Linked DNA regions of Homo sapiens: region 1 is linked to region 2. A link means that fine-mapping ties the variant in region 2 to the expression of a gene that starts in the linked region. Tissue or cell type: lung. Region 2 holds a variant in brackets; the other region holds the start of a gene. All regions are shown on one strand. Distances are between the middles of the regions.

Evidence for each region. PIP is the estimated chance that this variant, and not a neighbour inherited with it, causes the effect.
Region 1: ZNF630 starts here. The variant in region 2 is fine-mapped to the expression of ZNF630 in lung (TOPMed, PIP above 0.99).

What each region holds. Positions count from the first base shown.
Region 1 is chrX:48,070,045-48,072,730 of GRCh38, forward strand. ZNF630 (zinc finger protein 630) reads right to left here and starts at 1,596. Exons shown (of 5, transcript NM_001282201.2): 1 at 1,223-1,596. RefSeq lists an enhancer at 1,567-1,826 and a silencer at 1,738-1,934.
Region 2 is chrX:48,025,857-48,028,542 of GRCh38, forward strand. No RefSeq gene overlaps it. Among named protein-coding and RNA genes, the nearest start is that of SPACA5, 20 kb to the left of the region's middle. The variant A/G (reference allele first, on the strand shown) is at 1,403.

The DNA of each region.
Region 1 (2,686 bases), 44 kb after region 2:
AGACGGGGTTTCACCGTGTTAGCCAGGATGGTCTCGATTTCCTGACCTCGTGATCCGGCCGCCTCGGCCTCCCAAAGTGCTGGGATTATAGGTGTGAGCCACCACGCCCAGCCGATATTGTCTGCTTTTTAACTGAAGAATGTGCTTTACAGTTCAAAATTAACTGAAAATCTTCATATTTAAAGCCATAAAATGAAAAGAGAAGCCAAAAGCTGGAAGGAGATATTTGCAAAACACATACCACTACTAAAGGAGTGGTATCAGAATATATAAAAACAATTCCTGGCCGGGCACGGTGGCTCACACCTGTAATCCCAGCACTTTGGGAGGCCGAGGTGGGTGTATCACCTGAGGTCAAGAGTTCGGGACCAGCCTGGCCAACATGGCGAAACCCTGTCTCTACTACAAATACAAAAAAATCAGCCAGGCGTGGTGGCAGGCGCCTGTAATTCCAGCTACTCGGGAGGCTGAGGTAGGATAATTGCTAGAACCCAGGAGGTGGAGGTTGCAGTGAACCATGATTTCTCCACTGCACTCCAGCCTGGGCGACAGAGTGAGACTTCGTCTAAAAAAAAAAAAAAAAAAAAAAATTCCTACAAATCATTAAGAAAAGGGCAGAGAGTCCAACAGAAAAATGAACAAAAGACAGGCCCCTCACAAAAGAAGATCTCCAAGTGATGAATCCATATAAGAAAATGTGCTCAAACTTATTGGTCATGAGGGAAATACAAATCAAACCACCAAGTTGGACTTCTCCATCGGAATGTGGACACCACAGGAGCAGAGATTTTTGTTCATTCATGCACATATGATTGATCTGAAAAAGCCACCCATCATGGACCCCACAGAATGTCAACACTGACCCCACACACACTCCCATTCTTGTCCTCATAGACCCTCATCCCTCACCCCAGATCCCCCTATCCACTCACCCCACGGATCAGCATCCCTCACCCTACAGACCACCCATCACTCACCCCAGACTCCCTTCACCCATCCCATAGAAGCCCCATCACTCACCCTTACAGACATCATCAAACACCGCACAGATCCCCCATCACCCCACAAACTCCCATTTGCATAACCCACATACTGTTACCCCTGGTCCCACAGGCTCCCCTATCACTGTTCTCCACGTCACTCAATCCCCTCCTCAGGCCCTCCACTTGTCTCCATCCGTCACTGATCACATAGACCCGCAGCACTCAGCCAGGCCCCTCACCCCGGCTCTGCTCTCAAGCCGGGCTTGGCTCCCCGCCTGCCCAAATGCGTTCAACATCCCCCGAAAGGCCATTTCCCTTCCAGTCTTCCCGGAGAGATGTCAGGGTGACGAGGGAGCTTATCTTTCGGTGGCTCCGAAACAGCCACGAAGCCGAGCTCTACCAGTAACAAAAATGGCGTCATTCCGCCAGCGCCAGGACCTCTGTCGCTGGCCGTGGTCTCGCACTGCTTCTGGAGGCTCCCATTCCAGCCAGAGGAGAGGTGCGTTTGGGGGCCCGGGGGAGTCCTCGTGATATCTCCGAGTTTGGGTATTCGGAATTGATCCTACGAAAGCAGTGTGAGGCTTGGAAGGGCCGCGACTTGTCCGGGTGAGTGGGCGTTCCCGGCCACCAGAAGAGGCACGGCCTGAGCAAAGGCGTGGCGACATGGCAGGGTGGGAAACGGGGAAAGTGGGAAGGCTGGACAGAGCACCCCCCGGGAGATTCCTCCGCAGAAGCGAATTCCTAAAACGTCTGGAGAAAGGGAAGAGACCTTTGACATCATGCAGCCTTTCAGGGGGCTCACACATACCCGCCCACTTCTCCCCACCTGGCCTCGGCGCCCTGCCGCCTTCCTATTGTTCCTGCTTGGCGTCAGGACCCGCCCCCATCTGTCACTCACTGCCCACCGGTCCTCCATTGGCTCCTTTGAACACGGAAGGGCCCACCTTCACCTGTCATTTACAGCCTGGACTTCTGCCTGCCCTAGTTCAAGTAGGCTTATATGGCCTTTTGCAGCCCGTATCAAAACTAAAAGAGTTCATAGAGTCAGAGGTTCGAGGTAAAACCTAAGGGACATTGGTTTTAGACGACTTAACAAAGGGCTGGATTGGAAGTCAGCCCGGAACAGGATTGCAGAGTTAACAAAGGTTCATGTTCGATACAAAACGGGAACTCTGATGGTTACAATAGTTAAGAAAGTCCTAGGATTCAAGACCTCTATCAGGGTGTATGGATGGAGAAAACATTAACAAATATCCTGCTTGAAGATCAAATCAGAGGGGCACTGGTGGTGCAATAGTAACCCAATTCCAAAGTTATTTCAGAGAGGCCTTAAATGGAAGGTTAACTTAGACCCAAATCTGAGCCAAGACCAGAGACCCATTAAAGTCACGTGATGTGGTTAACAGAGCCCCGGAATTCACAGCCTATACCAAAGGGGTAATGATGGTGGAAGAATTAATCAAGGTCTGACTTCAAAGTCAAACCAAATGGCATTCATGATAAAAATGTTAACTGAGGGCTGGGCACAGTGGCTAACACTTGCAATCTCAGAACTTTGGGAGGCCAAGGCGGGAGGATCACTTGAGGCCAGGAGTTAGAGACCAGCCTGGCCAACATGGCAAAACCCTATCTCTACTAAAAATACAAAATTTAGCCAGATGTGGTGGCACATGCCTGTAGTCTCAGCTGCTTGGGAGGCTGAG
Region 2 (2,686 bases):
AATCGCTCAAACTCCCTGTAAGTGACAAAGAGGAAAAGGGAAGGATTTCTGGTAATCATGAAATAGATAGGAGACAGTAGGACAAATAATTGGTAAAAGAATCCTGGATGGTCTCAAGCGGTGGAACTCTAAACTTGGAATGCCATTGCATCAGTTTGGCATGGGACTGCTTTGTGCTGTGTCACATACTCTACATTTGTGGGTTTTCTCTGTGCCTCACTAGCCTGGCCAAGCAGTAACACCAGTATTTGAATGAATCCACTTCATTAGAACTGACTTTTGGGATCAGGTGTGGAACTGCCTGGGGAAGGAGGTCACCCTGCCCGCCTGGAGCCCCACTAGGCAGGGAAATGCTGGGGCACGCACAGGGCGCTATAAGGCCTGTGGGTCTGAACACAAAAGGTTGGGGGAGTACACATCTCTGGACTGAGGGTAGGCTATCCTGACCCCATGACTGGCTAGAGTGGTAGGAGCCCCGTGAGTTGGCCCTGTGATTTTGGGTACCCTGAGACGCATATGACACGTGAACATGGCTATAAAGCAGCGATGTCGGGCTGACGTGGATCCCCTAAGCACAGCTGGGGGAGGCGCTTTTGTAAACAGCTAGCATGCCTCTGTTCTTGTCGCATTTGAATTTGCTATTACAGATGACATCATTTCTGTTCCTTTCCGGAGCAATATCAAGACCCCAAATTTGTTGAGGTGGGGCAAAACTGTTACTTCACGTGACTAAAGACGTTTATATTGCTGTCCCAACCAGGACTCCAAAGGAGGTGGCTGTCCTCTTGAATCCAAACCAGGGGACCCATGTTGGGCTTGCGCGCTTCTCGCCAGGACACGGCCCAGAGGGTAGGTCTCTCATTCATAGTAGCCACATTAAGCCTGGCTGTCTACTCTAGTCTATGATCGGGGCATAGAATAATAATAACCCTTATTGTGCTACGCCACCTTGTGGTCATATAATCTTCTTTCATCAGAGGAGACCAGAAGGCGTAGAAGACCCCGGAGAAGAGGACTGGCGCCCTCTAGAGGATGACGCGACACAATACCACCATGAGAGAGTGAGGAACTTGACCTTCTCCTTTGCCAGTCACCAACAGCAAAGTCAAAAAAACAGAAGAGACAACAGGGGAGGGTCAAGAAGGAGAGGCCATTTCTCATTTGGAGGAGGAGACACCCTCTGTCTCACCCGGAGCCCCTGCCTGTCCGTAAGGACCTAGCCAGGGAACCAAATGAAAAAGCTACCGATGGCCGGGCGTGCTGGCTCACGCCTGTAATCCCAGCACTTTGGGAGGCCAAGGCGGGCGGATCATGAGGTCAGGAGATCGAGACCATCCTGGCTAACACGATGAAACCCCGTCTCTACTAAAAATACAAAAAGAAATTAGCCGGGCGTGGTGGC[A/G]GGCGCCTATAGTCCCAGCTACCGGGGAGGCTGAGGCAGGAGAATGGCGTGAACCCGGGAGGCGGAGCTTGCAGTGAGCCGAGATCACGCCACTGCACTCCAGCCTGGGCGACAGAGCGAGACTCCGTCAAAAGGAAAGAAAAGAAAAGAAAAAAGCTACAGACAATGTATCGAACAGAGCACAGCAAGCTCCACCTGACAGGGGCTGAAGTGAAGCACTTGGCTGCCCCAGGACGGTATGGAAAAGTGGCTTCCCTACTAAAGGATTCTGCACAGTTAGTACAGAAGCTGAGAGTGACTCCCAGGAGGCTTTGCATTGCAGTCCATGTACACCTGGTCAGTATGGATTTTGCATTTTTGTGAATTTTGGTGGCTTGGAAAGCTGCCCACCCTACACGAGGCCTCACAACCCCCTGGGCAGAATGGCGGTGGAAAACGTTAGCTGAGGCCAAAGATGTCCTCCATCAGCTCTGCACATTCCAGTGGGATTATCTGGTGACAGATGGCAGGGCATGAGGACTCTATAGTCTGAGGAGGCTGAATGGAGTGCTGAGCCCACACAGTAGTTTCTCAGGGAGCACCTGACAAGTACAAGTCCTGATTTCTGTCAGCGATGGCTAAGGCTAAACAATCCACCAGGCCATGGCTGCCCTGGATGGAATAGAATCTCATGGAGGACAAACTCACAGCCCAGTGTTGCCTGCAGTTATGAAAACAATGCCCCACCTGGCCTAAATCACAAGGAACATCACCGGCAAGGCCGCCCCCTCATAGTGCAAATAAACCACCACCAGCCAGGCCCCCAGTTGAGCGGGAACCCTGAGATGCACGGAAGAGGTCATCTATTAGTCAGGGTTCTGCAGAGCAACAGAACCAATAGGAGGCGATATGTCTACGTCTATGTGGAGATATGTGGGATTTATCGTAAGGAATTGGCCCACATGGGCCCAGAGGCCCACAGATCCCAAGACCTGTAGTTGGCAAGCTGGGAACCCAGGAGAGTGGGTGGTGCAGGTCCAGTGTGACGGCCAGCAGACTTGAGGCCAATGAAGAGCTGACGTTTTAGCGCATGCTCCAAGGCGGGAATAAACTGATGTCCCAGCCCCAGCACTCAGGCAGGAGGAGTCCTCTCTGACTCACGGAGGGTCAGCAGTCCTGTTTGCCTCAGGCTTTCAACTGGCTGGGTGGGGCCCCCCACATCTAGGAGGGAGGTCAGCTTCACTTAGTCTTCCAGAGAAAGGTTAAGCTCACCCAGAAACACACTCACAGCCACACCCAGGACAG